4 separate regions of the Homo sapiens genome follow, and all the other regions are linked to region 1. The links come from fine-mapping of genetic effects on gene expression. A gene starts in region 1. Each other region holds a variant in brackets. All regions are shown on one strand. Distances are from middle to middle.

Region 1 (8,111 bases):
TAAGATAATTTGGTGCACTGAATGAATACAAAATAAATTACAGAAAGCATCATCTCTCTGTTCTGGTAGAAGACCCTACAAAAGGAAATGGAAAGAACATTTCATTCAGAATACAAGTGCTATAAAAAATTTGGTACAACTTTGGTAAGAAAGTTACAGAACATATATAAGCAAAATTATAAAAATATGATTGGGAAATGAAAAAACATAAACTAGAAAAGCTTATTATCTTCTTGGATGAAATGACTTACTGTCATGTAAATTCTCCAAAAATTAAAACAAAAGTCTAATGCAATATGACTTTTTGTCTTATATAAAATGCCGTATAATAATTAAAAAGGGCTTAAAGTCCAATATCTATATATAAAAGTAATTTTGAATGAGTATCATTTTAAATTTGGGGCTTTTTGAAGATTTGTTGAGAATGACAAAAACAACACTGAGAAAAATTCTAAACCCTTTAATAAATACATTTTATATGATAAATGTAAAATTACATAATGTAGGTTTTAAATAACAGCCTCTTATTTCCTTCTTAATAAAAGGTGGGATTAAGGGGTTAAGTCTAGAAGCCTGAATGTTATTTTTTGTAGGCCCCATATTGTTTTTGTCCAGTATGGTCTGGTCAAACTTGGCTGTACATTAGAACCACCTACAGAACTTCATAGGAATCTAGTTTCCAGAGTCTCATGCAGGAGTTCCTGCAATCATAATTTTGCAGCAAGAATTTTAGGCATCACTGGTCAAGTTTATGTTACAAGGTTCACTTCTTATTCTTAAATTCAGGGTCTCTTTTCTGAGCACAGAAACCTAGAAAAGGGTATCCAATGTTTAAATCTTCTGTGGGAAATGACTCATTTCCTCTTAGAAATGAGAGTTGAAAACAGGTTTTTAATAATAAATAAAAAATAGATTCTGCTGCAGAGAAACATGCAATGTACATGTTCTCTATAGCAGGAGACAGTAAAAGTATGCTGATATTCACGTCATGTATTGGTTAGTGTTTGAAATCCAGCTTTGTCTCTTTCCAATTGTGCTACCTTTGACAAATTAATACACCCTTGTAATTCTCAGTTTCTTCATTTATAAAATGGGAGTGATAATAGTACTTACTTCACATAATACTAGTTACTCAAACACTAATGATTTAATAAGTGTTAGCTAAACGCAAAGAGAAACAACACAATTAAGCACTCTCTTCAGCAAGAATAAGTTGAGAGGTTAATGTCACCACATGCTTTGGTAAGAGACCAACACATAGCAGGTACTGGAATATCTTGCATCAAGATTTAACATTTTGTGGCTCACAATGCAGTTTTATCAAAGGCATTAAGTATTCTCTTTCTCTCTAGCTCTCTTCTTATTAGTATCATTTAAAAAGTAATATTGGAATGTTCCCAGATCATGCTAGTTTGTGAATACAAATGAGTTCATGTTAATATCGGTGCCTAAATAAGGTTTAACAATCATCTTGAGTTTAATAATGATTCCCTTGACCCTGCAGTGCCTCCCTAGTCTCCATCATTTGCAGCAAGAAATCCTCAGCAGTGTCTTTCAGGTGCTCAGGAATAATACCACTCCTGCTTTACTGCTCTGGGCTCCTACTTAAGTTACCTTGACCTTGTATCGGCCACCAGTGTTCTTTATGAGAATATACCCTCACTGGGCAGATCAGTTCCTATCGCTGGCAAGGCTGTATGGAGGTCTATTTCAGGTTGGGTGAGAGAATGGCTCTCTTGCCAGCTCCATGCTGTCATTTGTCACCAGGCCTAAAGTAGTACTTCTTAGAACTTAAATTTCACAAAGTCATTTGTGGGGAAGATGATTATTTAGCTTCTGGCCCTAAGTTCTTTACACAGCAGGCTCAAAACCATTTGAGGACTCTGAGGAAAGCAGGGAATGCAGGCATCACACCATTCCTTCCACTTCTTTTGACAATTTCCCAAGGCTGCCAGCACAAAAATTCCCCTTTCTTCATTCAGAAACATATGTTCCAAGAGTGTCAACTTATACAAACAGATTGCTGCAGATGTCACTGGCCCATCCGCACCACAAATCATAAGGCTCTAAATTCCTTTCTATATCCCTATCATCTAACATCTGACATAAAGCACTAACTCAGAAGACGCCTCATCTACATGTGTTCTGTTCCTGTTGTTGCCTTTGAAAGTGAAACAACTGCACATGGAGAGAAGAATCACACATTTCTGAGCCTGAGGCCAGTCTGGCCACTGGGGACCCAATGCTCCTGCTCCTCGGCAACATGCAACTTTGGGGATTTCTGTTTTGCTGCTGCTGACGTGTGAATCTTTACAACAACCATTAACATAGTAACAATATCATATCATACAGAAACAATTTAATTTTATTCCTGATTTCTCAAAAAGCTTTCTTGAGGTGACGTTAAGTGTTGCTAATACCTCTGTTACTTAACATTTTTTTTGATAAGGTATATGAGGACCCATGATAATAGGTTTATTGAAAAATTCTTGCCCCTTCCTAGGAATGGAAGAATGATAACATGTAATGTAGTAATAGTGCATGCATAGTGTAAAGTGTAATACAGTGAAAATAATGATGTAAAGATGATTAACAAGAAGGCAGTGGAGAATTCCTCTTCAACCTCATGTGACCTTGACAGTGTATTGTGACGCTGATGTTCGGCTAGTTCTGGGTGAAGTCCAGCTTCTTCTTTCTGATCACTCTTCTTGCCTCAGGGTGATGCCTACCCTGGACACCTAACTGCCCCCTCTCCATTCTAAAACCCCTTCTCACAAAGGAAGGATAAACAGACTCACATTCAAGTTGCAATCACAGATGTGACACGGTTTAATGTATATCGTTCTCAGAGGCATTCTAGGGGAAAGGAACAAGTCAAAAACTCCAGGTGGCAATGTCTGCTCTGCCGCTTATGATCGTGAGACTAACCCAGCACGACAAACCCTGAGCCCAGTTTCTCACCAGTGTCCTTTATGAGAAGATGCCCTCACTGACCAGATCAGTTCCCAATGCTGGCAAGGCTGTATGGAGGTCTATTGCAGGTTACCAATCTCACAGGAGTTTTTAGAAGAATAAATGAAGAAATGAAAATGAGACTATTCTCAGCACAGTGGTCTATAGAAAGTGCTGAATTTATGTTGATTTACTCAACGAAGGACAAAACTTTAAATTGTGAAATTTTATATTTTTTGGGATGCACTTGGAGGGCCTTTTTTTTTCCTACCTTTAATCACATTTTATAGGTAGTTGCCAATTCTGTTCTATCTTTTCTTTTTTTCTACAGGGAAAACTGTACACTTGTCCTGATCTTCACCATGCTCTGAAATGAACCTGTGTGAACCCAGCGTGACAGAAGCAGGGACCACAAAAGTCTAAGGAATTCATGTGTTAGGACTTCTTCCAGTTCTATACAATTCATTTTATGAGAAGACATGATTGCCTTCCCGTTTTCAAGACACGCAACTCTAAAATGGTGAACAATGAACCTCGAATATTCTTTAATTTCTGCAACAATCTTCTGTAAATCTTTATCTCGAAATGGCTTCCTAAATCTACATTTTTTTACAACTGCCGTGGTTCAACATTTGCTTAGCAGGAACTCTAGGTCAGAGCTGTCCCTCAGCATCTACGGGATGGGGCCCCACCTGATTTTATTTCCTAACTTTCGAGCTGGCCTCAGATACCCGTTTATTCTTTGCTTCACAAAGATGCTTAGATAAAAGATCTGAAGACTCTCTTCAAAGATTCAAAAAGCTCCACTGTTTTGTGGGAAGATGTCTGTGGTCAGATAGGCAGGTGGATCGGGCGCCTAGGGCCCGGAGGTAGAAGGAGGTGGCCGGAGGCGCTCAGGCCAGCGCCTCTCGCATCTCTGAGGAGGGGCGCCGCCCAGGCGCTCGCGTTGCTAAGTCCTCTGTTTGCCGCGTTCTAAAGGAGCCCCGAGCGGGACCAAGGCAAACGGGGGGGGGGTGTGTGTGGCCCGGGAAAGCTCGAGCAGTGTCTTCAGTAAACCCCCAGAAGAGGCAGCGGCCCCTCCGTTGATCCCTCCTGTCCCCAGGACCTCCTGACTCCGAGGGGGCAGAGGATTCCCCGAGTCCTTTGTTCCTCCCAACCGTCGCCGCCCCCGGCGCCCGCGCCTCTCGGCACGTCGTGCACCCCCGGCCGCAGCAGGCGAATGGTCTGGCCCGTCGGTAGCCGCCACCCGCTTGGGCAGCGACAGCTGTTCCAGGCACTCCGCGTCGAGCACCGGAGTCCCGAGCCGTGGCTGCCACGGGCGGTGGGCGGGCGGAGGAGAGCACCGGACCACCAGTGCAGGCTGCCGAGTCGGGGCGGCCGCCCACGGGGAAGCTGCGAGGCGCGGGAGCACCTGGGGGACCGCTTGCAGCGGGGACGCGAGGACCCGGGCTGGGCTTTCCTCACCCGGGTGAGTACCTGCTGCCGCCATCCTCCCCCGACCCCCTTCCATGTCCCCACGTCCCCAAAGGCTCCGCCCTGGCCCTCTTTCCGGGCCCCCATCCCCGGACTGTCACTGCTCTGGGGACACCGTCCCCGCTGGGAGCCGCGGAACGGGGAGCTGCTGCGTTCGTGCAAATGATTCAGCACCATTCGTGCCCTGAGAGGTTTGGGCAGAATGGGGGAGGGAGAGGGCGGAGGGGACGGGGTCAGTTGCTGTGATCTCAGCTCAGTTTTTAGGCTCCAGATGGGAGACTCGGGCGGGCGGGGTCGGGTTGGGTGAACGAGGAGGCTCCCTGCTGGTTTATTCTGTAATTCCGTCGTTTTCCCACATCGTGGTATAAGCCTCCGCGAGTATGCGGGGCATTCTTGAAAGGGTATCAAAATGCCCTTTTCGCACATGCGAGTGAAGTCTAGGGCCCTTGTAGGTACCTCTCACTTTCTCCACATCTTGCTCTGTTGGATGCCTGACTCATGCCATCATCCACTTATATCACATCGCAGCGTTCCCTCGACTGATGTAAAAGATACCCTATGAAAGTTGCCTTGTATTCTGGGTGGGTTTGATTGATCCTGGCATAGAAAGAAAAGATTTAGGAGAGGTAGGAAATAATACCTTCATAGCCTAGGCACTTACTTTTATATATCGTATTTTATTAAATCATCATAATCCAGAACCAAATGTGGAAACTGAGGAGCAGGGAAGTTAAATTACATTCTCAAGGTCACAGAACAGGAATTCGAATATAGGTTTTCCTGACTCTATAGTCCATGGATTTTCCACTGTATTAATGGAGTGTGTCCAAGTGTACATATATATGCTCTATTAGATATTAAACATAGAATTAATTAATTGAGGAGTAATCTCAAACAACAGCAACAACAACCTGTAAACTTTCTGCATAAGGAATTATTGCTCCTTCAATATGAAAGAAAGATGCTTTGAATCATGTGAAAAATAATCTATTTTCTTAGAAAGCTTATGGCAAAAAATATGTGAACAACACTACATAGGAGAGTGAGGTCATAACAGGAGATGTTCAGCACATTTTTGGCAGTGATATTTGGTGGATGCTCAAGTGTTGGAGAAGTCGATTAAAAACGTAAGAAGAACTCTGGAAATCTTTTTCTGTCTTAAATGTTAGGGAGACATTTACAGTAATAATAGTTACTTAGTTCATGAGGTGTGCGACTGAACTGCACCCCACAATAGGGTGACAGGTGAACCCATACTAAGATAATGTTACTTGATTCATTACAACTCTGTGATATTGCATAACAGGTGATAACTCCATTTTACAGACTAAGGAACAAAATTCAGAGAAGGTTCAAGACCACTCAGTAAGCCATGGAATTTGGACAAGCCTTGACTCTTAGTCAGTTTAGAAATATGAGTGTTGTAGTAAAATGTAGTTCTTATATAGTGGGAAACTGAATTAGTTTGTTGTTACCCTGCCGTTAAGAGTCAACAATTATATTGACCTTCTATGCTCCTTCTGTAAAAATAATGGATGCTAGGTCTTTCTTCGCCCGTTGATGGGTCCTTTGACTTGCTTTCATTAGCGACTTACAGATTTTTTCTTAAGAAATGCATCTCTTGTTTATGTCTCAAGAGGCAGGTTGCTATAGTACAGATGCTCATTATCTCTAAATACTCACATAGTATTGATGGTAGGCAGGAACAGAGTCATCTTAGTATGTCATTTCTAAAGTATTGAACCATTTGCATTGGAGAATTCTTTTTCAAGTTAACGGGGGTATTGATAAAGTCCACTGCCTAAATAAGGACATAAAATGGAGGCACAAATTTATATTTGTTGTTCAAACAAGAGTATGAGAAGTGGGGTCTTGTGAAGAGTCTTGAGTTTGATTCCTAAAAGTCATTTCATTTTGTTCTTTACATGGCTATAACCTATATCCTGAACCTTGGCAAGGCATCTTGTAATCCAATCTGTTTAATCCTAAGGGGGACAGCAGAACTGGCATGAATGAATAAGCAAAAATACAATACCACTGCTGTTAAAAAAAAAAAAAGGAAAGTGCATGTCCTGGTGATGGATGGTCAGCAGCAACATTTTAAAACAGAGACAGCACATTTTACTTAGATGACATCACTGAGAGTATGAATATAATACCAACTTGGCTTTAGAACTGCTCTCTCTCCTCTGTCCAATGACTACAGTCTGCAAACCATCTAAATTCCCCACTTCAAGGAACTTAAAGTCTAGCAGGGGAAATTTTACTTACACGTGAGTAATTAACAAATAACTTAGAATTGGCTTAATACCAGAAAAGGGTGGTGCAGACCTACTGCTATAGCGGTACCTTAAGAGAAAAGAGAAATAGTAGAGCCTTGGATGATCAGAGGATCAGGAAAGTCTTCATGGGTTGAAGTGAATTAAATCAGTCTCAGAGACTGGAAGGATTCTGATAGGCAAAGAGAAAGCCACATAAAGGTTCAGCTAAGAAGTGCTCATCTACTGTTTGGATACATGGTGAAAGATCATGAAGAAACTTGAATGTCAGACAGTGAGATCTGTTTCTGATCTGTTAATCATTTCTCTTTCTTACATTCTCCATATCTGTTGCCCCGAGTCCCCTTCCAGGAAATGGTCTGTTTCCTGGGTACTAAAAGGATTGTCAACTAAACTGAGAAAAAGTTTTCTGTGCAAGTACAATTTTTCCTCTTCCAAAGGAATTTGCCTTTTAGCTCCGGCCCCCATTAGATAATTATGAACAATTTGGAAAGTTTAAGAATATAAAAAGGAAAAAAACACCCTCATAATTTGACCAACTAAAGACAATCACTATTCATTTTTGACATGTTTCTTTCCACTTTTTTCATGCGTAGTTTTAATTATGGTATCTATATTACTTTTATATTATTTTTAAATTTAAAATTCTATAACTTTAGTTTTCATTTAATTACAACTGGCTTAATACTAGGTTTAAAATGCCTAATAGCAGGCTTAAAAATGACTACATAATTTTCCATTTGGTAGATGTATTATCATTGCCTAATTGTTCCTCATTGTCACTATTGATGACATCATAATAAACAATTATTGATGATAATAATAGCACTGTGATGAACATCTTTGTGCGTATGCTTTTTTTTGTATTTTGAATATTAGTTCCTTTGCATAGAGTCTCAGAAATAAAATTTCTGGGTTAAAGGGTATGAGGTCTTGAAGTTGCACTATTTTAAGCAAGTTTTGAAACTACTGAGTTCTTATATTAGGCCATTCTTGCATTGCTATAAATAAATACCTGAAACTAGGTAATTTATAAGAAAAGAGGTGTAATTGGCTCACAGTTCTGCAGGCTGTACTGGAAGCATGGCAGCATCTGCTTCTGGGGAGGCCTTAGGAAGCGTCCAATCATGTTGAAGGGGAAGGGGGAGCAGGCACGTCACATAGCAGAAAGCAGGAGCAAGAGAGAGAGTGAGGGGGTGGTGCCACACACTTTAAGTGACCAGATCTTGTGAGAACTCAGAGTGAGCGCTCACTTACCGCCAAAGGGATGCATTAAGCCATTCATGATGGATATGTCCCCAGGATTCAAATATTTCCCACCCCCACCTCCAACACTGGGGAATAAAATTCAACATGAGATTTGGATAGGGACCCATATCCAAACTGTATCAATTCCCAGTGTTCAAT
Region 2 (8,111 bases), 120 kb before region 1:
GTAATCAAGTTAGGAAAACAGTAAATATAGTCAATTGAATGTGTTAGCAAAATAACATTTCAAAAGTCAGAGTCCAACAGAAAATAAGAACTAAATTTATTGTCTATAGCTATCAAATATAAGAAAAAGAAAAAAAACCCGCAAAATTCATATTTATCTCACACAGTAAAAATAGCTCAGTAATGTGCCAGGAATAATTAGACTTTTATGGCAGATGATTAATTGTTTTGAACTCATGCTGTTTACCTAATTAAACTATTAGTAATACCAGCAGGTAAATTAACTTCATACTTCTTTTCTGGAAAGATAGATTTTTAATACTGATACAGTTGAATATCCCTCCTGCAGAGCTGAATACACAAGCATTTTTGTTTTCAATTTTTTTTCTTTCCAACAAAGAAATGCTTTAGCTCAATGTCGTATAGGTAATTTTAAGGAGCAGGGGAAAATTAGGATGCTTATTAATGATAAGCTTAAATTACATACAGCTATTTTAAGATTTTATTTGATAGATTACTATTTTGTAATTGTTCAACTTAGCAGATAATTCTACTCTTTGGTCTTCCTCCCTATTTATCTTCATCTCATGTACAAATGTACATTTTCTATAATGTGTTTCAGGTAACATACACAGCTGTCAAGACCTGAAGTACAAAGAAAAGAGGAACTTACAGAAAGATGGAAGAAGAGTATGCCATGCAGATGAAGCTGGGAATTAAAGACCCAGATAGAGGAATAAGGCAAAAAGAGTATGACTACTAGGAAGAGAATGGATTCAGGAATCTTCTGTGTAGGTGGAAGGTAAGAATGGAAACATGAAAAATAGTTAAGGACTACTGCAAAAGTCCAGGCAAGAGATGATGGATACCTGAACTGAGGTTGTGGTGGGAAAGAAAAACAGACAGATTTCATATATATTTTTGAAAAACAAGGAGATTTGATGATTCATTGAACCCAGAAAATTAATAAAAGTAATAAAAGATAATTCCTACTTTTTTTGGCTTGAGCATGTGAATAAGTAGTGATGCCAGTTATTATTAAGCTGGGGAAGGGTGAGGAAGTGATATAGACAGGAGGCGGGGAAATACTGGGTAGAAGAGGGCAGACCCCAACGAGGGCCACACTCTCAAGCCTGGACCTGCAGTCCAAAGTGAGAACATGCATTCCTGTTTTCCTGCCCAAATTTGCCTTTTCCAAAACCATGTTGGCTGTCCCCACCTCCCCATCCTGTACCCATAAAAACCCCAAGCCCCACCAGCAGAGTGGCAGAGTGGCAGAGGAGAGAAGAGAGGCAGCAGAAGGACATCAAAGAGAAGCAGCTTGACTTCAGAGGAACAGCTTGACAGCAGGACTTCGCAGAAGAGTTCCACAGGGGACGGCTGAACTCCAGGAGAAGACCACCTTCCCACTCCATCCGCTTTCCAGCTCCCCATCCTGCCAAGAGCCACTTCTACTGCTCAGTAAAATCCTCCACATTCACCACCCTTCAATTCATTCATATGACCTTATTCTTCCTGGATGCCAGACAAGTACTCGGGTACCAAGAGGGCGGGTGCAAAAGGCTGTCACCCTGACCCTCCACTGATCTGTTAAACACTTAAGTTGTCTGTGGATGGCAAAGCTAAATGAGCACACTGTAACACATGCCCTCTAGGACTCCGGAGGTCACAGGTTCCCCTCCCCTCCCCCCCACCCCCCAGGAAGCTTCCACTGGACTGCACAGGATTCTACTCCTGCGGATGCCCAGAAGCACTTGTCCCAGTCCCTGTACCCACTCACCTGCATGCTCCCCGTCCCGTGAGGGGATGAGAGCTGCGAGCTGAGTAAACAAGTCAATCCCTTTGTGAGTCCCGCGAAGGGGTCAAGGGAACTATCCCATTTCTGAAGGAAGGGGCTGGAGGGGTGTTGTAATAAAAAATTCTATTGGACATATTAAATTTGAGATGCTTACTAGACATACAAATGGAGATTTCAAAAAGATAGCTGAATATGAGTCTGAAACACATCACTGCCTTCTAAATTTTATTTTAATCATATGCATATCTGTTAACAACTAGTTTATACTTCTGGTTGTATTAGGGAAGAAAGATGGTTTAAATTTTCTTTAACTATTAAGTAGATCCTCCTCTTAATTGTGACTGAGTCTTGAAATGCATACCAAAGGTCGTAGGCTCTCTGTACTTCCTCTTCTTTCTAAACTCCCGATGGATTTCTGATAAGCAGAATGCTCCCCCTATTAATTCCATCTACTGCCTGGAAACTGTGGATATGTTTCAATATATGCCTAACTGGACTCTGCGGATGTAATTAAGGCTACTAATTAGTGACTAAATAGATTCCTCTGGATTACTTAGGTGGGCCCGATCTAAAAAAATTTGCTCTTGAAAGCAGAGAACCTTGTCCAGCTAGGAGCAGAAGAGAGCCATGGCAACATGTCATGAAATTTCACGTGTGAGAATGATCAGCACACCATTACTGGCTCTGAGATATTACAGCCTATGTAGAAGCACCAGAGAGAGGGCTCTAAGAGCTAAGGGAGCCCCCTAGATGACAGTCAACCAAGAAACAGAGACCCTAGTCCTATAACCATAAGGTACTGGATTCTGCCAGAAGTATGGATCAGCTTGGAAGTAAATTCTTCCCCAGAAACTCCAGATAAGAGCCTGCCAGAATTCTGACCTACAGAACAGTGAGATAATAAATGGGTGTTATTTTAAGCCACTATTTAAGCCACTATTTAGTTATAGCAATAATAGAAAATTAACACAAGACTTAAATGTAATAAGGTGATGGGGATGAGGAAAGTGGGATTCTATTTCCAGAGTACTAAAATGTATGAAATATGGACATGTGAAACTCCTAGTCATGGTTGATGTGGGCACTGTCTCCCTTTAACACTTAGAGCCCTTCGTGTTGATGAGAAAATTTCATTGATCTACTAACGCCCTAGCCAAGACTATAGCCAGGTAGTCCCATAACTAAATCTCCAGATGGGCTTTCTAAATACCTGAAATGTGAAGATGAAACTTCTTCCCTCAACCACCACTACCACCACAGAAATGGTGCAGGGCATGGGATAGTCACTCCTTTCACTCACATGAGAACCCTCAAGAGCACTGATAGGGCAAACTGCGAACCTCAGGCATTTGACTGCTAGTGTAGTTGCCTGACTCCACAGCATAAAGAGGTGAAGGTAGGGGGCTATAGGCTCAGACAGCAACATTACAAATGTCCAGTTTTAAAAAACACATATTTCCCCTTCACCCATAATTACTACGATAGAAACCCAATTTTCACCATTCAGATAATAACCTGAAAACCTCACTCTTCAGATAATGTGTGTAAAAGCATTCTGGATATGAAAGGCTGTAAAGTTATACTAATACAAAATGTAAGAAACTTCAGGTAAACCAGTAGTCAAAAATCATGCATAGAAGTTCCATTTATGTAAGACGACTTTCTCCTAGCTAATTCCTACTTGTTAATCAAAGTGTAGTTCAATGTTATTTCTTCTCTTCTAGTTCCTAAAATATATTAACACCCACGTTACTGTACTGACCACATTGTAGTAATTGCATGTTTATACTTCTTTTTGTGAGTTTCTCATATCATTTCTTACCAGAATCTAACACACTGATGATCACACAGTATACACTCAATAAATGTTTTTAAATTGATTAATTTCTTCAAGATACCATAGCTTTTTTATGAGATAGCTTTAGGTATCTAAAAGATGAGTCACAGACAGAAATAAAGGCCCTTTATTAGGCCCCAATATATCACATATATTTCTACACTACTTTAGGGAGCTATGCATTTCCAGTCTTCAATTTCTCTCTTTTAATTTAATATTATTGAGTGTAAAAATGTTAAGAAAATACAAAGCTTACTGCCTAGAATATTTTGGAATCCATTTATATTAGACTATGTAACATATTCTAAATGTTGTAAGATTGACTATAACAATGCTAACTTATTATATGTCAGATATCATTCTAAGTGTTTCACATGAAGTAAATAAAGCATTTATTCCTCACAACAATCTACCTTTATATTGGATATTATTATCCCATTTTCCAGAGTGACAAAGAGGTTAAGTGTGCTGCAAAAGGTCACAAATTGCAACATTTTATAGCGTTCTACTTTATTTTCTCTATCCCTCTCCAAAAAGTTTATCAAACCAATTTTAAATGAATTACATTTCCAAAAGTTTTAAGCCTTCCCAAATTCTTTTTTTTAATAAATGGCAATATATAGAAGTGTCACAAAACTAGAGGTTTAAATTACTAAGATTTTGTTAGTACTTTGTTGTTGTACATATGGTTTCTCCTTTTATTTTAGAAC[T/G]CTAGTAAGTGATTACTGAACCCATTAGTTTCTCTATAAGGAATTGGTGCTGATTTCAGTAACTTTCATTTCTATATCACTCTCCAAGTAACTTTCTTATGATGATTCTGATAAATAGCTTACCATGTTGATACAGTTTTAATTATCAAGTAATATCTGAAGAAACTTTAGTATTGCAGAAAAGTCAAAATTAACTACAACTCCATACCCTGGGAGAAACAATCTCATACATCACTATGTGGTATTCTATTCCAATAAATTCTAACACATTTTAGAACTATGAAATAAAGGTGAGCCTGAGGCACTAGAACTACATTATTGCTTAAACTGACCCTGTTTTAAATCACCCAGGCCCCAAATATATGGTCTGCTGCCAACCATGGCAGAACGGTTAGATGACACTTACCTCACAATATTATAAGCTACGGAGTCAGCCAGAAGGTGGCAGAATGGGGCCATTTAGGCTTCACATACATACCAGAAAAATCTTTTATTGTCATTACCTTAAATTTTAGCAATATAAGATAAACACAAGTTTAGGTTATTATACAAATAAAAGTGTAATGTACCAGAAATATGCAATAACATTATTTTATTTATACAAATCAAACTATAAAATTCTCACATAAACTACCATATCAGAAACTAATATCCATTTTCCCTCTCATAAATCTATTTATACAACCCATGAAAAAATTAAGTCTTCCAAAGATCCCCCATATAATTCCAAAACGTCCTTTTAATTCACTAACAATTTAATGGAAAAATACTAGTAAACGTCACATTACATTTAATTTGGTAAGTTCAATCATAATTACTATATAATGGCAAGGTAAAATCTTTTATAAAATCTCATATAACTTTTAAGAAAACAGTTGTTCTTATATTGAGCTGGTTTAATGCAATTTAGACACTATGACTTAATATATGGCAGATTAGCCATATGATTCTTCTATTACATTTGACTGTTTACAATGGATCTGTTTATCTCTGCATTCCTGGTACCTATCACAGGACTTAGAACACATAAACCCTCAACTGAGAAACATTTGCTCAATTGAGTATAAGATTTCAAAGAGAAAACTGAAGGCCAAAAGCAATTAAGCAGACAGCTAAAACACCAATTTGTCTTAACATGGTTATTTTTATTTTTCTATCAGGTGACCAGCCTTCCCAAATGAAAAATAAAACCACCCACAGAAACTAGATTTTAAAGCCAGATCTGCCAACATTAGCCAATTTACATCAGAGGGAGAGGCTGAAGAGTGCTGGAGAGAATTGTTTTGGAGCAGTTATGAGGTATGCAACACATTCAGGGCAGGAGGTCACCCTTACCTCAAATCAACTGAGGGGCTTCAAGGAAACCACTCAGAGACTTAACATGTACCCTATCTGCTAGGATTTATAAGAGTTAGGGACTGTTTTGGGGGGACTCACCAAATGTACAAAATGTAAAGGTACTAAATGGTAGATAAAACCACCTCTGCTCAGTGGCAGAGTGAAAAGAATTATGTTGAGAGGGGGCTCAACTTGGAATAGCAGGGAAAATACATTTATGTCCTATAGACCCCAGAAAAGAGAGTGTGTGCAAGGGAATCATAAATTGCCAGCCAGAGGAGAGGGCTTCTCTCACAAAGAGAACTGAAATCTGAGGGCCACAGCAGGTTTACTGTGAAGCTAACAGAGATTAAATTTCAGGACCTCTCAAGTGCAGGCAACCCTTCTAATACCCTGGGAGAGATTCTAGCATTGTGTTCACAAGGACACATGCTTTTGTAAGACTTGCAAAAGTAAGATATTTTAATAGCAATTGGTTGAGATTGCTGTCTCTTTTCTCTCCAACTTCCCCTTCTTCACACTTTCCATTATGTCAGGTGCTAATGGAGTGGCACCAGGCATTTTAGAGATCTGAATAAGGGAAAGTTTAGGGGTAATGTACAGTTTTAGCTACGATTGGCAAGAAGTTTGGGGATTTTTCAATTAAAAAGTTAAAAATGACAGACTTGTGATTTGAATGTGTACATATATATGTATATGAATATATATGTATAATACATGAATGTATATGAGGAGTACCTCCTTTTTCATCTTCAAATTTATGTATTAAAAAAACAAGATAAATTTAGAAGAAACATAATGAAATATGAAAGAGATTATAAAGAGGAGACATAAAATCAATAAAAATGTTCCTATATAGAAAAGTGAATTCAAGTTATTTTTTGTAACAAATACACTAAATCATGAAAAAAGGAAAAATTCCAAATAAAAATAATGAATAGGCATGTTGTTTCATAATGTAATTAATCAAGAGAATATGAACATGTTAGAAAAGATGTTTAAGTCTCTTGGCAATTGACACAAAATAGTAACAATAACAAAGATACATAAAACTCGTGATAGCTAGTACAAGAACATTAAAGACAAACTATTAGTGATTATTGTTACTTCAAAAATTACCTAAGATCAAGATTTGAAAAGTCTTGAAATCTTGTAGCTCATACACAAAAGAAACTTCTCAGGGACCATTACCTGGTGTTTCTTCAACCATAAAAAACAAGTATCTGGGAACCAGAAGGTGGAGGTGGGAGTGGTAGATATCACCACCCTATTTCACTGAATCTATGACTATCAATTATAAAAATCACCATTATATCATGTACCACTAAGAAAAAAAAGAAAAATGTACAGCAATTAAACTATGAGATACTTTGTCAGTTATAAATTTTTTCCCTATTAAGAGAGAACTATTTTTGATTTATTTAGACATAACTTTTTAATATCACTCTTGTAAACATATGAAGTGAAAAAAATTTTAAACTTGTTAAGAAATTCCTAAAATGCTTTCATATTCATAGTCTGACTCTTCCAGACTATTTTTTGATGCACAGTCATTATTGTGTGTTTTTACACAATTATTGTTCTTTATATCAAAAATATTGATACAGTATTTTTTGAGGCGCTCTACTACCATCTCCTATATTTTCTTCCAACCTGCTGATACGCATTTTCATGTTTGTGCATGTATAGACAATAACAAGCACATCACAAGAATTGCCTGACTGATGTCATCATTTTAGGAAGCATCCTAATTTCGAATACACTAAAATGTGAGACAAAAGTATGTATGTCAAAATTAATGAACTATAGTATGATAAGTTACCCATTTGAAAATTTTCTACTTCTTGTCTCTGTAACTTTGGACTCTTTAACAGTTGAGACATTTTAATACCCTTGGAAGTACTCTTCAAGAAATATGAATTTAGAAGTACTCTTCAAGTATGGGGAGTACCTGTAACAATTAATCCCTTGAACCAGAAGTTTAGAGTGCCAGCTGGGCATTCTGGTCACATTTCACTGAAAAATACAGGCCGAAAAGGAAAGTTACTTCTGTTTGAGTGATTAATCCTGGTTATTACTGAGACATAAAGTTGTGTTATAGATGGAGGTGGGGTACTTTCTTGTAATTTGCATATTGAGTATAAAAACAGAGAAGACTTCAGTATTCCAATATAGGAAACACTACCAAGGTCTCAATGATTCAAGAATGATGGTCTAAACTACTACCCTGAAAAAGAATCCCTTCTACACTTATATGCTGCAGTGGGAAATTTATAGCAACTTTCAAACAGAACAAGGACTATAGCAGCTACTCATAAATGCCACCTTGCTATGCTATATGTGTGCCTATGTATGTGTGTACATATAAACACATCAATTTCCTTCTTGCCTTTCCCCAGGAATTTTACATAAGGCGTGGTCATTAACTT
Region 3 (8,111 bases), 67 kb after region 1:
TCCAAAAACCATTCTAATGACAGTTTACTATCATAGTGAGTCAGAAGCATCAAAATGGTAAAATTCATTAATTTTGGACCATAGTTCATTGATGGAAGATCATACTATCTTCCATCTGATGATAATTCCAATGCATTGGTCTATTGCTCAGTGGGACCAAGAAAGTTTTATATACCCTCTGGCATTCTTTTTTTTCTGTACACATTTGTAACCCTCATTTGGATTTGGCTCTTTGGGGACATGTCTGTGAAAACCTGTTGGGCTGCTTTGGTGAGGCATGTATAGAGAGAATCAGGGAGAATAATGAGGGTCATTAGCTTTACGTGTATTGGTTTTAAGTGGTGTTTTTTCCTACACAATTGAATTAAGAGAAGGTAAACGAGCAAGACTAATACTAATGAGAGGATATGGAAATTAACTTTCTGTTAGAACGTTAAGTATAATTTTTAGATATGACCCAAACATAGCCAATGTGGGCCTATTAATCTCTGACACATTTCATGGTCTTGTCTATAGGTGGGTAAATTTTGCATCATTCTTGGCTATGTTAGTTAGAATGCATATTAATCATCTATAAACAATCAGTTAATAAATCTAGCTTTTCAAGTACTTTTATTTTAATTATCTTGTCAAACACCTGTCTGCATTTATGTAATTATTTGAAAATTGGCTGTCTTTATTAAGAATTGGTATACTTTATATAGATAACTGTTTAAGGTGAATCAATGGGATAATATAAAAAGAGAATGACAGGACGAGGTGGAGAAAGCAATTATGCAGTAAATTTTTATCTTGATGTCTTAGTTTACAAATTCCCTGAATTTAATTTATAACTTATTTTTAATAACCCGGGCAATTTCTCTAAAAGGTAACTATCAATATATGAAAAGCAGCATTCATCAATACCTTCCGTGAAGAACAGAGCTCTGTACTTTTGTTCTGGTCAATAATAAAAATCAGTAGAAAATCAAGCCATGGAGATTAAAAATGAGTATAATCATTAAAAAAAAAACTATCCTTACTGCTTTTTGTATACCTAAGGTATAAATCTACAAATCACGTTTTAAAGCAGTGATATTATGTTGTAAATTCTCAAAAACAGTAGTGGAATTTCATTTGTGTTTGTTTATATGACTCCTCATTTTCACATCTACTGAAAACTTGCCTTTACAATCTAAAAGCAGGTTATTTTCTACGTAGCAAAAACACAGATTTGTAATTCAGGGTCTGTTGATTAATAATCAGTCCCCACCCCCTCTCTCAGCCCGTACTGTTCCATACAGATACTTATCAGTCAAAGTTTTAACTTTTTCTGCTCTCAAGTGGTTTCAGTAATATTGGTGAAGATTTATATAAAGTGGCTTTTTGTCTTTTATTTTATATGCTATGGTGCTGTCATGAATTTGTTAACCTTGAACAAAATTTTTTGAAAACAGCCTCTCATGGGACATCTGATACTTATTCCCAAATATAAACTGGATTGTGGTTCTGGGTAACAGTGAGGTTAACTTCTGTCTTCCCTTTTATCACCCATAGAATAAATATTGTTCCACCAGGTAGTGGAATATTTGAGTCTAACCTGATATATAAGGTGGAATTCTAGAGGAATGATAGAGTAACAGTAACAATAATAGTACTCTGGGCTCTATGCTAAGAGTCTTACATGGAATCTCATTTTTTTCTTACATTAACCTTTTGCAGATTATATTTAGGAAAAATGAGACACACAAAGTTTAAGCAACATGACTGAGGTTGCACAGCTAACAAGTTACAAAGCCAGGAAGAAACATAAGAAGCCTATTTTAGAGCCAGGTTCTTAACTGTCTTTTTCTATTGCCTATACCTGTAGAGAGGGAGTTAAAATGACAGTGTCTTCTGAGCAAAAATAAATGAGACAGCTTTTCTCCTACAGCTTATTCTGAAACTTCAGTAAAACAACTTTTTAAAAATTAGGGTTAATAACTCACCCTAGTAGTATTATGTGTTTTCTCTCAGAAAATATTGAGAGCCAGTCTTTTAATTGGTAACAGTCTTCTCAGATAAAACTTATACACTACAAAATCATCACTGAATAAAGAAACTCAACTCTCAAGATTTTGTCTTCCAGCCCTTTCAGCCTTTATCTAAGTGGAGTTTCTCTACTGGTGTTTGTGAAATAATTTACTCTCCTTGGAATTTTTCCTTCCTGTCACCCTCATCTCTTCTGGATGGGGCTAGCGTATGCTCCTACCTTACTTGTTTTTAACATATAGAAACCACATTTATCAGCTTTGTTTTACTTGTTTACAAAGTAGTAGATTTACTTGAATATCTACTAAATGCCAGCTACTATTGTAGGCACTGGGAATGGTGTTATAAATAAGTCAGACAAGGACCCTTCTCTAATGTAAAAAGAAAAATATCAGCTTGTTATATGCTGTGTGTAGTGGTGCAGTAAGAAATGAAGGGTGGCTGCTTTTAACTTGAGGGTTAGGAAGGCCTCTCTGAATGTCTAAGAGCCAGACTTGGGAATATAGGGGAAAGATTATTCCACAAGAGGGAACAGCTAACTCAAAGGACTTAAGATAGGAAGAAGTGTCACTTACTTGAGGAACCCAAAGCAAGTGTGAGGAGTGCAGTGGGCAGGGGTAAGAGTGAAGAATGAAGTCAGAGCAGTGGCAGGGGCTAGATGCCACAGAGCTTTGTAAACTTGGCCAGGCTGCCAGTTTGTGGGCCCCGGTTATATTTGCACATATGAAATGAGATACAAAGGCATTTTCACTTCTTTTATCACAATCTTATAGGAATTGGTGGTAAAGACCCTGATTGTAGCAGAACCTCATGTCCTGCATGCCTATCGAATGTGTAGACCTGGTCAACCTCCAGGAAGCGAAAGTGTCTGCTTTGAAGTCCTGGGATTTGATATTTTGTTGGATAGAAAACTAAAGCCATGGCTTCTGGAGGTAAGGCATTCTTTAAGAAAAAAGAAGAGTTATCACTGTCCTTACGTATTAAAATAAATGCTTTAAAAATGTGTACTTAACACAGTTGTCCCATTAACTGTCCAGAATGAAGGCTGAATGGAATAAGTGGGAAGAAGAGGATAAAAATTCAGGGACTAGAACAGTTCTAAGAATGAATCACAGTGTTTGATATTACTTTTCCCAAATTAGCATCAGCTGAGTTTCTAGGCCAGGTATTTGGGATTGAAGTGTGGAGGTGCTTTTACTGTTTTGTTGCTTACTTGCTCTACTATTTTCTCAGCCTCCTGGCTTCTACCACATCATGAGTTCTGGATAGTGTCTCTCCTCTCTGTGAGTGCCTGGGCTTCAGGATCTTGCCTTCAGTGTGTCTCCCCTTCAGACTCTCCGAGAGGCTCCAATTGGTTCATTAATCAGTATTCAGTATTCGATACCCCAGGTGGTAAATTTCTCCTTTAAGGCCATGTTATATACCTGGGGCTTCCCTCAGGGAGACTGTCAACTGTATGCCTTCAGGTTTGCTGCCAGTCCCTGGTAGGGTGAGAGTTACCATTATTTTTCTTGGATGATAAAAGGTCATGTAACACATACAGAATAGTAAAAAGGAGAAAGTAAAAATTATCTCTGTTGACAATTTTTATATTTTTT[C/TC]CTGCTAGTTATATTTATATTACCCAGAAGAAACCTTAGAAGTCACGTGGTCCAGAAGATCCCATCCAGCAGTTCCCTTTAAGCTCCTTGATCTGGGTTTACACACCTTCTCGTGGCCGCTTAAATATCATGTTTTGGAAACGTAATCAGGAACATACAGCTGTAGAAGATGTAGTCAACCACTACCTTTCATTTTAAATCAAGTATCTCTCTTTTTGTTAGTGATTTATAAGTTAGAAGTTGTGTGTGTAATATCAAGGTTTGCATAAGCAAATTAAATGAGTGGTAGGTGAGATGATACTAAAAATACATTTCAAAGAAATGACACTTTTCTAATTTGAGGGCCAAAGATTGTGTGTGTGTGTGTGTGTGCGCGCGCCTATGTGTGGTCACATCTACTTTAAACAGTAACATGTATTGTGTCTCCAAGGAAATGCAGTTCTCTCTGTTGGATGTTCATATTTTGCTCCAGCCTGGGTCTTAGAGATAAGATAAATGTGAGGAAGTTTTACTTATCCTTTGCTTCCTCCGTTCCTTGGATATGAAAACACTTGACTATGCACTATGGACCCTTCATCTTGCTAAGGCCTGAAGTTTTCTTTAGATTTCTTACTTTTTCTGCAGCAGTCCTTTCCTGTTCTTAGCTATATTGTCTTCTGCCCCTGTTACTTTTCTTTTGTCATTGATGGAGTGGGGAAAAAGTGAAGGCACATGCATAAGGAGGATAGTAGGAAATAATGACTTTATAGATATCTTAGTTACCTTTTTAGAAGAAACATTTGCTTCACTAGAGCTTTCCATTAGCTTGCTAAATCAGAATTGACTGAATGGTTGAATTCTGGATTTTAAAAGATTCAAAATAACCATTGTTTGCATGAATGTTTCTTCATTCTTTACTCTTTCCTTCGTTGTTTCTAGATCAATCAGAACCATTAAAACACTCCACAATAACCAAGAGCTGTGAATAATGAACATTTGTTATATTAAAACAGTTAAAAGAATCTTCAATCTTGCCTTGTGTTTTGCTCCCTGCTGATATTTTGGTGGGGCTAATATACATTGTTAAAAACCTTTTGGCGCCATCAAGTGGAATAAGGTAGAAGGTGCTTCTGGGTATGTGATAACTTTTAGTTAACCAGAATAATTTCAGGGACTGATTGCTAGTGGCAGAATTGCACAAATTTTCATAAGTAGAAAACATTTTTTTAGGAAAAACATGGAACTTTGGTGGAGTATGAAGATACCACCAATAGTTTTAAGTACTCTTAAATTAAACAGGAACCTACTAAGTTATAGTCATTGTGTTAGGTGGTGGGAATATAAGAAGACAGAATACTTGCCCTGGTGTAGCCATTATTCAGATGTGCATTTTATGGTAATAGTTATAAGTACTAGTAGGTAAAAGGGAAATGACAAAAACAATAGCATGATTAATATCTCTGTGTACCTGTGTGTATCGGAGAGTTAAAAAGAATCTTTACAGAAGAAACACCTGAGCAAAGATTGTAGGGCTACAGAAGGTTGGGGTAGGGGCTGGGGGCTGAGAGAGATAAAGTAGGGGTGGGGAAAGGCTGTGGTGCAGAGGGAACAGCACTAACTTAGGAGCACAGAAGCTATTATGGATACTTTAATTTGTGGAAAAAGTGATTGTTTTGATAAAACTTTTTAGGACAGTTGAAAATAGTGTTTACTAATATATATTTTATAATAATTTTCATTTCTTAATGCATTTACAAGCTGTTGAATTTTGAGACTTTAACATCTATGTTTTGTCTGTTTTAGAATTGGGGTAGGAAATGAGAACCAAATAAATCATCTCATTATAGAGGAGAATTTTGGCTGGGTGGAACACTAATTTTTAGTTTCTTCTGTCAGCCATTTGTGGTTTTTCTTTTATTTTTTTTCTTTACCTTTCTCATAAAACTTAAAAAAAAAAAAACAAGAACAACCCTGAATGAAAACCTAAATTGAAAAAGGTTTCCTGCCTTTCCACATATTATTAATAGTTTATCTTGTGTGGGTATACCTCTTCATAGACCAATTTATCTTATAGTAGAGGGAAAAATTTGAAATAGGTAAGGAGAGAGAGAGAGATTGAGATCTGAGATGGCTTTATACCAAGACCTCAGTACCATCCTGGAGGAGGGATATGCCTGGCACAATTCCACACTGAAATTTGGAATGGAAACTCTGAGGAATTCTACAAAGACAGATAACATGCCAATGGACCACTGACTCATCAGTTCTTTAATGTCTGGTTTAGTTTATAACCATGTCACATATAGTGGCAACACTGTCATTAGTTGTATTATAAACTCCAGAAATTTGAATCAGTATGGTTGAAACTTTTCTCCCATAAAATATATTACTTTACCCTTTCTTTGCACTTGCAAAGGGAAATGCTTAGAGCTTTCGTAATAGATTAATAAACTCCCTTTCTCAAATTGACCTATAATAAATGGATGTTATTGCCGTTTTCAAGCTATTTCCTTCTCCTTGAGACTATATCACAAATAAAGGAATGTGTCCACCACCTTTTAAATCAGAAATCAACAAAGGAATCAAAATACAACATGGCATATCTCTATAAAAGGAGTACCATGCATCCATCAAAATGATGGCATGATGAAAGATTTTCATGATACATTATTAAGAGAAAAGCTTGGAATGTAAAATAAAGTATGGTTAGTATAGACATGCATTTGGAAGGTAAAATGAATATTTTAAATATGTATACATAGAAAATATCTGGAATACTATCTACCAAACGGTTAACACGACACTAAGTGTTAAGTAGTGGGATTACAGGTATCTTTTGTTATTTGTTTTCCTTAGTTTTACTTATTTTTCTGCGGTGAACCTGTGACACATTTCTAATTAAAGATGTTGTATTCCTGGGTAATTTCTTGATTATAATGTGATATTTCTTCAGGTGCAAGTTGTGGAATGAATGCTTTCAATTGTTTTGTCTCTTGTGGTGACAGATGTGTATAACTGTGACTAGTAGCATATATACATATGTTTGAGATAGCCTAAGGGATTAGTTGGTGGTCAAGAAGCTAAGCTGTTGTGTTGAACTCAGCAGTGTTCTAACCAACCGATTTAACTGATTAAGAAATTTTCTTAAACATCAGCTATTCCAGTTATATTTTTATAACAATGACAATAGTAACAAGACTCAACAAAGACAAAAACAAACACTCCAGCTCTTTTATTTTTCATCTTAATGAATTCCTGAAGATCTGAGGCAGTGAAAAGGGAGCACTGATAGTTTCCATATTTTAAATATATAGATGTATATAATTATTATTGTGTTGATATAATTATTACTGTGTTGGTAACATGATGAATATCACTATTTCCTTTTTGTTAGGCTAAATCACTTTTAACTTTCCTAAACTTAAAAAACCTAAATTGCATGGGGTAGTGGAGAGAGTGGAATGGAGGGAGAGGCCAGCCTATACTGACAGTAAAGCTCCTAAACTAAGGCAGCCTTGGGAAGGAGATGGTGCTAATAGTCAATCCCTTGCAATTTGTTGACCTAGGGTGATGCAGAATGGAGATGTGGCAATAACAACTGGGCCATCTGCCATGTAAAGCTTTGAGGTTTAATGTAGAGTTGTTCTACTGGCTAGAGATCCCACATTGGATTAACAAATATGTATTGAATATTTATTTACCTTCCAATATTGTCTTCTTTGTAAATTTCAGATTAACCGAGCCCCAAGCTTTGGAACTGATCAGAAAATAGACTATGATGTAAAAAGGGGAGTGCTGCTAAATGCGTTGAAGCTACTAAACATAAGGTAAAATACTCTCTCTATCTTTTGGACATTTATCTCCACATTTGACATAGATTAATCATTTGTACATAAAATTGGCTTTTCAGAATAGTATATTTATTTTTATATTTTATAATTTTCATTTCTTGATTCCATCCATTTTGTATTTTTCATTTCTTGGTTCCATCCATTTTGTATTTTTCATTTCTTGATTCCATCTATTCTTTAAACTCATATAGTTAAAAAAAAAAATCTGTCCCCCCTACTCCTGTATACTGCTTTTCCTGCTTCCCAGGCAACAGTCTGTACCTGCAGTAAATGAGGTTAAATTTCAATGTAGGTATAATTATTTAATATAGAGTACAAGATTAAATTGGTAAATACTTTAAGAGACCCTCTAGATTATCTTCCTCATCTTATAAGAAGAAACTAAAGCACAAAGAGTTCATTCAGGAAATTAAAAAAAAAACTCAAACATGGATTTCCTAACTTTCTCTCCAGAGGTCTTCCCATTACATCATGCTCCCCATGTAAATAAAAAAGAGAGGCAGTTGTTTAGTGAGAGTTAACTTTTCCATTTAGAGAGGCAAGTAAAATTTGAGAAAAAACTTGGCTGGTAGGGATGTAGGGCTGGTTGCAGTGTACATGATCATGGGATTCAAATATTTGAAATGCTGTTATGTGGGAAAAGCTTTTGGCTCATTACAAAATGAATTTTTTA
Region 4 (8,111 bases), 140 kb after region 1:
ATAAAGTTAAAATATTCTATAAAGGCTTTGAAAGTTGAATTGATTTCTTTCAATGACTCCTAAAGATGAGGCCAATGTGGGTAGTTTGCTATCTCCCTATTTTATCAAATAATTTTAATTATATATATAATTTCATTTTTAATTGAATGAAAATCTTTTTTAAATTATAAAAATAATCTTGGAATAATTTCAAGTGTTAGAAAACTATATAGTACCTTAAAAACAAAATAAGCATTTGGTTCTTTTGTAGAGCATAACATAATCTTTAACTGGAAGAGAGTTATCTTTTAATGGTTATTCATCAGGTATGTACACAGCATAGTGACAACGATACCCATCGCCATGGTCAGGCAAATTGGGAAACGGTATACAAATTGGAAGGTGTTTCTCTACTTTCAGTACTTCCAAGAGTCTTTAGTATCCTCAGATGCACTGACATTTTCCAGAAAGGGACAGCAACATGCATCAGTTCCCAAACTAATTTCACCATGGTATCTTTTATTGCAGCGCATCTCCCGGGACTAGACTTCTATTGAGCACACTTTGGAAAACACCAAAATACACAAATTCATTCACTAATAAAGTAATCAAAGCATTTAATCATATATTTATCAAATATAGACTGGTGGTATAAATATGAACACTGACAAATCTGGTGCAAGAAATTTACTTGCACTTGTCACTTGAGAATTTGGTCATTTCCAGGGGAATATTTGAACCAGGGTTTCAAGAGGGATGGCTTGAGGCCAGGAAGGATGGCCAGAGGTAAATAACCCTAATGATAAACATGCATTATATTAGATATTTGCAACATAATCACGACATGTGAAGTAATGCAAAATGCTTGAGAGTGTGGTCAGAATGTGATCCAAGCCTTTATGAATAGATATTAATTATTTATTGGGTCATATATGATAAAAGTTCATCTTTAATAGTCTAAAGTCATCCATCAGCAGATGAGAACTTTGCATAATAACAGGATATATCTAGAAACACTTGCTGGCCATCTGCAAGTATCTTCTTACACAAAACAAAAAGGCCTGTTTGTGGCTGGCTTCCTTCCTTCAAAGCTGGAATTTATTCAGAGTTTGTCATATTTGTGAGAGACAGCATTTATCAAGTCAGATATTTTTTCTGTGTCTAAGTTTTCTTTAAGCAACATGTTAGGCCTTAAGAAATTTTATCATACTCCATTCTGTATGGTTCCATGTGAAATACTGCTAAATTAACCTCCTTCTTTAAAAATGCAATAAATATACCACTATTTGGTATATTTAGGGAGTATATGCTGATGGCACTTAGTGACCTAAATTGTGCTATTTTATACGGTTATCAAAAATACTAAGATTTTTTAGACTGAGTAGTGTTTTGACTATTGCACAGCAATGGACTCTCATTGTTTTTGAAATGTTTTATTAAGGCAGCCTTCAATCTTTGATATTGTAATAGAAACATACGGTGAGAATATGCAAATTCAAACTCTTGTCCTCTCTAAGAATGGGTGCAAACATACAAAAACCCTTTAAGTATTAACTAGACACTGCAGTGAGAAAAATTATCAAGGATAATAAAACTCTATATTAATATATTTAGTCAAGTTCTGTCCTGTTATAGCTATGCTGCTGTTAGTGTTAGAATAACTTGTAAAAGGTCAAGAAACAATAATTTTTTTAAACCTACAGCATGCTGTTAGCAGTAAAAACGTTACCTGTGTGTTCATAATATATTGGATTTAGAGGAAAAGTATATGACACAGTGTATGTGAAAAATCTAGGTATATAAACCTTAATACAATCTAAGAAAATACCATTTCAGCATATTGCCTCATTTTCATTAAAACGATGAAAATGTGAATTCAGAAAACCACTTAGTCCTTAGGCTAAAAATAGGTAGATCATCAAAACCTAATATCATTTTAGTCCAAATTGATATTTGTTTAGTAAATCTTCTACATCATAATGGGAGAAGTACAAAGGGAAACTCAAATTTGGGGGAGAAATTGAGGGGAGTTTTAAAAATAAGCAAATTTAGCTAATTCCATTCTGTTTGACTCTCCCCAAACTGGAGTCAGACTTGTCTTGAAACAAAGAATAAGTAGATACCTCAGAAATTAGCTTGATTTCATATTTTAGCCTCAGGTTTTTCAGTCAAATAATACTTCTATTTGCTTTTTGAATTCTTGTTTTTTCCTGACCATTTCTCAGTTTCTAAATTTCATCTCATTCAGCTTCACTTTTTCCCAGTGAAGCACTGCCACGTTACTTTCATTCTAAAGGTGCTGGGTAAATCTTGTCTATTTTTTGGTTATTTTAATGAAAATATTTTCTTATATTTATAAGAAAAAGCAAAGGCAGATTGTGCTTCTACATTATTTACATTTATTTACATATTATTTAAATTTTTTTCTTAGCAAATTGGCCCACAGACAGTGTCCTGTTTTTCTGAGCAGTAGGTAAATAATGACAACTTCTGTAAGTTCTGTGGCTACTCAGAATCTCTTGAGAATATATGTCCTGCTAAACTGCAAGAGGGCCACTTCCGGACCTGAAATGGTCTAAGAAATGTTGATCATGCTTCTTCCCACACGTGCTAGAAATTTCCACGCAGTTTGCAGATCCAGCCTAGGTACTTGTTAGATGGGTGATTACAAATTTCTTACGGGCTGTGTAGCACCATCACACTTTGCCAAGTAATCTCCAAGCTTTGGGAAAATAAAACAAAGCTCCTTACAAACACTGGATTCTCTCCTTTCCTTACTTCTTTAGCGTCCTACTTATCCTCTACTTTATTGTCTCTTTTTCATATGTAATAGAACATACACTGCAATAGGAAGCTGAAGATGTGGGTTCCCATCATAGTTCCATCCTGGTTCTTTTATCGACTAGCTGAGTGGAATAGGGTTGCCAACTTTGTCTATCTGAGAGTTTTGTTGTGAGGAAAATAACAAGCACTAGTTTTTGGAGTAAAGTATAATTTCCTCATTGCATATTAAACCCAACTCACCCGATTGTCAGAAAGATTCTATCTAGTTTGTGATTCTAAGTCGGGGGGGGGGGGTGGTTAGCGTTGAGTTTCAGGTTCTATAAGAACGGGACTAAGGAAACTCATTACCAGGTGGTAATCATCTTCATCTATTCAATAACACCGTTTGGTGTACACACTAAATTGTGGCACTGGAGACTCACATAGAACTGAAGTAACTCACCAGTTCCTAGAGGCAGGTGGGCACGTAGGGAGAGAGAGGCAGCGGCGCCTTCCAGGCGCTCTCCCTGGTACAGAGGCGGCGGGGGCCAGGGCTGTCAGGACACCCAGGCCCACGTGCCAGGCTCCGGCTCACCTGCCCGAGGGCAGAGCGGGAAGCTCCGCCCCTCGCGGAACCCCGGCCTGTGCGCAGTTCCCGTGCCCTAGGAGTTGGCGGCGGGGCCCAGCCGAGGTATAAGTTCCACAGCTTCACCCTTGTCGGTGTGATATGGGCGTGAAAGAAGACATAAAACAGGCTTCCCGAGTAGAACCTGCCACCCCGGGCTGGTGGGGACGCGGCACCAGGCCGGGCCGGGGGAAGCCGCTCGGACAGTGGTCCTTGGGTGAGCGCCTTCTTCGGGGCCCATGGGCCAGGCCAGTGCGGCCCGGGACGCCCCGGACCACCTGGGGAAGAACCGCCCGGGCCGGCCTTTGGCTGTCCCAGGCAGCGGCTGGAGCCCGAGTGGGCCCTGGCGGGATCTGGGACGGGGAGGGTCTGCGGCGCAGCCAGGAGGCCTGGGAAGTCCCGAGGTGGGTAGAGAAGGGCCGCGAGGGGGCGCTGAGACGGCGAGTGGCCGGGCCTGGGAGTGACAGTTGTCAGGAGAGCAGTCAGGACACCGTTGCTCAGAGTCCAGGCCGGTTAGGACCAGAGCCTACCCCGGGTGGCATGGTGATGATCCAGATTCAGGAGACATGTCTGAGAAAGGATCGTTCAGACTTTTTGACCTATTTTACATGAGGAATAAAGGATAGAGGTCAGGAAAGTTGTCCAAAAATTTTTTTCATTGTTGTTAAAAAGTTCATTTAGTGTAAAACAGGCAATTATCTGTGCGTTTAATATGCAGGCTAAGGTTGTTTCTTTCAGGCTTTCTTTCTTTGTGGCATGTAATTTCTATTTAACAAATGTATGTTGAGTGTCAGCTGTGTGTCAATTGCTATGCTAGATAACAGAGAAACAAATTATTAATAACATCCTCACTTTCCATGAGTTCAAATTCTAGTACAGGAAAAAGTCATCTAAATAATTCTAATGAAATGTCATAAGGCTAAATAACAAAGGTATATGTAAGGAATTCTATCAAATGTTCTATTAACTATTAGCATGGAACAATTAAGGGACTAGCTCTGGTTTCCAGATGGAATGGCCCTTATGGACATCAGGCATAATGGGTCATTTGCTTAACAGAAGGCAGAATTTCATATCTAATATTTTAGGTTATAAATAAGGGCATATAGTAGAAAGAGGCAAAAAGAAAAAAAAAGACAACGTACCTCCAAAACCCAGCTAAAACCTCTCTCTTTAGAAAGGACTCCTGGATTTTCTACAGTTTTATGTTTTATCCAGATGAGAGGTGTGTAATGTAGTCGCTAAGAGGCTGGACTCAGGAGCTAAACTGCCAGAGTTTACATCCCAGCTGCACCACTTACTAATGGGCTGACCTTGTATAAGTTGCTTAATACCTTGTTTCTCATTTTGCTTATCTGTGAAATGGGGATGATAATTATAGTCCCCATAAGATTGTTATGAAGATTTTTGTATTTCTAAAGTTAAGAGATGAAGTCTCATTTTCATTCCCTACGATAGAGCCTTCAGAATGACTGTACCCAGAAGTCAGATTTTTATTTTAGTAAATAAATAACTCGTTGATTTAGTACAGTTTTTCAAAGTTATTTTTTATCTGGTTTTACAGCAGATTCTGATTACATGTTATATTT[G/A]AAACTGATACTCATATATCTTCAGCTTAATGATTTGTAACATTGAAAATTGCATTTCCATTGATTGTTCTTTGCAGCATGATTGTTCTTTGTTACTGATATGATGATCTTTCTGTCCTTCTGCCAATAATTGGAAACAATCCTACATCATGAGCTATCTTTTTATTCTGAGGTTTTAGTGTTTGTGTAAACAAATAACACTTGCTGTTCAATGATTATATTTTCTTTAACACCTTTTTGCCTAAAACATGCTTTTGTTATTTGCTTTCATTATAAGGAAATACATGAAAAGATGAATTTAAAAGGCTCTGTTTCTGCCCTCCATGGCTGGTACTGTTTATCAGTTGCTCAGCAGTACCGTCACTGCTGGTGACATTGTTGGGGCTATTTAGCTGAACTATCGCTCAATTAGTCTTTTTCCATTATTTATATGTAATCATTAATTAATTAATATTATGTTCTCTTCAACAGAATAGTCACCTTGAAGTATAATGTCTTCAAGTGGGTCCTGGGGGCATAGACAGAACTGGAGTAATAGTCAATCAAACCTTCCCTTGATAATCCTCCCCACACAGTGCGCTGTACCTAATGCAAGCGCAAGCTACCAGACCGTGCATTACGAGTTTATTTCCATGCTGTTCACATATGTGAGCTGCAGAAGACCGTGATGCTTCAGAAGTTAAACTCTCATGTTTTCTAGATAGGAGGTGCTTCTCTAAGATTTTAAATGCCCTAACAGTTGTTTTCTGAAGTTGTTTCTCTGAACTTATGGGTAAATCTCCCAAGTGAAAGGAAGACCCTAAAACGTTCCCAAGTCTTGCCTTCTTCTAAAGGTGAGGGTAACCCAGTGAGCACACGAGGGGCTTGGCTTATGAAGCATCATTTTCAAGTCTTTGCCAGACTTTTTGCTTCCATTTTTGACATCTTCATTCATGCTATTGAACATCTATGTTACCAGTCTCATATTTAAAATACAGCAGCATACAAAACATTTTTTCACTTTGGTTGAGTGTAGTGTTTTGATAAGTGAACAATTTTCCAAAGGTTACTCAGCTGTTTTTGACTACTGTAGAGAACTGGTTAGAAATTCAACTGCCGTGCCACTCTCTGAAAAGACTCTTGATTTGCAAGAGAGGAAATAGTCATTGTGAATAGTTTCTATTCTGACCATAAAATGCTATATATTGTTTGATTTATCAGTGTACTAAAAGGAGGGACTTCCTCTGAGAAGCCCTTTATTTGGCATTTATATCCTTTGCAATTAAGAAACATTTTTAAATGTCATTAGCCAAAGGGAGAAAGATTTTCTTTTTGGCATGTTCTTTGGCATTTCTAGTGGTATGCTGGTAAATAACAACCAGTCCTCCAAAAAATAAAATTAAAAAAAAGAAACAAGTACAAAAAGAAAGACAAAACCCTTACTTACAATGACTGAAAATTTCTGTAATGTAAAAACTCCCACCATGACAGATTTCAACTGTCAAAATTATGCCACTAAACATGGAGTTGGGAAGATATGTGCACAGTCAGCTCTCACAAACCGGCACCAGCCGGCTACAGCATGCCACTGGTTCTCATCTTAAAATTGGTTATCACAAAATTTTTTTTTTCTGTTACATGTTTGGACTTCTACTAACACTTATGTTTATCCAGTAACTTTTAAAAAAATGAATCATAGTTTGTTTCTGCAAATATATAAATGCATGGAGCACTTAGGAGACTCTACCAATATTTTCACCTTCTTTCAGTGAATCAGGTTTTCACAGCTGAATTCTTACAGAGTTAGTACCCTCTTGCTCTTCATTTTGTTTGGTACTTTGTTTATTACAAGATGAAATCTCCTGGGAGTCCATAAATGAAAACATTTTAGTGTGTGCTCCAACCAGCTTTTAATTCACATCAATTTAGAAACTCGGAATTATTTAAAGTAGTTCTAGCTGTTCTAAGGTTAGCAATTAGCATTTTAATTTGTGCAAATGGCATTGAAAATACTGTATCAAAACAAACTGGTTCTCTTAACATGAAAGCCTTTAAAAAAGTTTTAAAAAATCAGTGGTAATCAATTTGAACAGTACAGCTTTTCCACCAAGAGAGAGCAACATAAGCACACGTAACAAAATATATTGAAGTGGCCATTTTACATTGCAAGCAGTAGGGTCATGTACATGTGTTACTTAGGAATCTATTACTTCATCTGCTTCTGAACTTGATGGATGAAGTGCAGTGATTAGTTAGGGTTATGGCAGTTGATGATGCATTCTATAGAGATCATCTTTTTGTCTTTAGGTATTTCATATGCACAATATGTTACTTCATTATGATTTCACTTATGGTGCACATTTATGAGTGTCTAAAAATTGACATTGCTTTTCCTGTCACAAATGGCTTTCAACAGGATACAGTTTCTCCATCTGTGCTAATAAGGTTAGGAAAAATTGCAATAGTTTTAAATGTGTAAATGGTGGATTTTAAATTTTGTTTTAAGACAGTATATATCCAACTTTAAGAGAACTGGTATGTCTGGAAATTTTCTTTAAGATTTTAGTACTGTTAAATGTAATGGCAGTTGTTTGAATATAAACAACTGACATTTGACCATAAAATGGAAGCCTGAAGATTTCATCACTAAATTTTGAACTTTCAAAGATTAACCTTAATTAGAAACTTTGCTGTATTTTGTGGCTTAAAGTCTTGCCTTAATTATTTTAGGGACACCGTTTCCACTCACAGTTTTCATACTTCAGTAAAACAAAGTGTCCTTAGGTTGCAGTAACTAAATATTAAACTTATATTGCTTCCATATAACAGCAGGAGTACCTGCAAAACATATCAGTTAAAACTCGATAAGGTCAAGTCTTAAAAATAACTGTAACAAATGATTTATTATACTTATTAAAGTCATGATTTACAGATCTTCAGGTACTTTTCAGCCTTGGGAGTGGGAAGCATTTACCAGGATAGGGGAAGAAAAAGAAAAAAAAAGGTAATGGCTACAAATAAATGCAACAGTTCTGTGCTTTCAGTAAAGTTATTTTTATGTGATTGTAAATTAAGAAAAATTCAGAAAAAATGCACATAAATGATTTGTTGTTAAAATATTTATTTTTAGAAGTCTTTATAGGCAAGAGCTTGTGGATTTAAAAAATTCTGTATAA

Direction of the effects. Positions count from the first base shown, and alleles are read on the strand shown. Sizes are in standard deviations (SD) of each study's normalised expression. Not every link is listed here.
For the expression in liver of the gene that starts at base 4,219 in region 1, G is the low allele of the variant in region 4 and A is the other (moderate effect, 0.57 SD a copy in GTEx).

The links. PIP is the estimated chance that this variant, and not a neighbour inherited with it, causes the effect.
Region 2: its variant is fine-mapped to the expression of TTLL7 in whole blood (TOPMed, PIP above 0.99).
Region 3: its variant is fine-mapped to the expression of TTLL7 in whole blood (TOPMed, PIP above 0.99).
Region 4: its variant is fine-mapped to the expression of TTLL7 in liver (GTEx, PIP 0.98).

The regions. Positions count from the first base shown.
Region 1 is chr1:83,995,240-84,003,350 of GRCh38, reverse strand. It overlaps TTLL7 (tubulin tyrosine ligase like 7), which reads left to right and starts at 4,219. Exons shown (of 21, transcript NM_024686.6): 1 at 4,219-4,420. LOC124904205 (a long non-coding RNA gene) reads right to left here and starts at 4,063. Exons shown (of 2, transcript XR_007066195.1): 1 at 3,645-4,063; 2 at 1-75. RefSeq lists silencers at 4,320-4,419, 4,430-4,559.
Region 2 is chr1:84,119,664-84,127,774 of GRCh38, reverse strand. It overlaps a transcript of PRKACB not described here. Among named protein-coding and RNA genes, the nearest start is that of PRKACB, 21 kb to the left of the region's middle. RefSeq lists an enhancer at 4,711-4,860. The variant T/G (reference allele first, on the strand shown) is at 4,345.
Region 3 is chr1:83,928,439-83,936,549 of GRCh38, reverse strand. TTLL7 (tubulin tyrosine ligase like 7) reads left to right here. Exons shown (of 21, transcript NM_024686.6): 9 at 2,784-2,942; 10 at 7,320-7,414. Among named protein-coding and RNA genes, the nearest start is that of TTLL7-IT1, 52 kb to the left of the region's middle. The variant C/TC (reference allele first, on the strand shown) is at 3,609.
Region 4 is chr1:83,856,292-83,864,402 of GRCh38, reverse strand. LINC01725 (long intergenic non-protein coding RNA 1725) reads left to right here and starts at 3,407. Exons shown (of 3, transcript NR_119375.1): 1 at 3,407-3,584. It overlaps LOC101927560 (a long non-coding RNA gene), which reads left to right and starts at 3,857. Exons shown (of 3, transcript NR_119374.1): 1 at 3,857-3,995. RefSeq lists silencers at 3,319-3,448, 3,549-3,728. The variant G/A (reference allele first, on the strand shown) is at 4,957.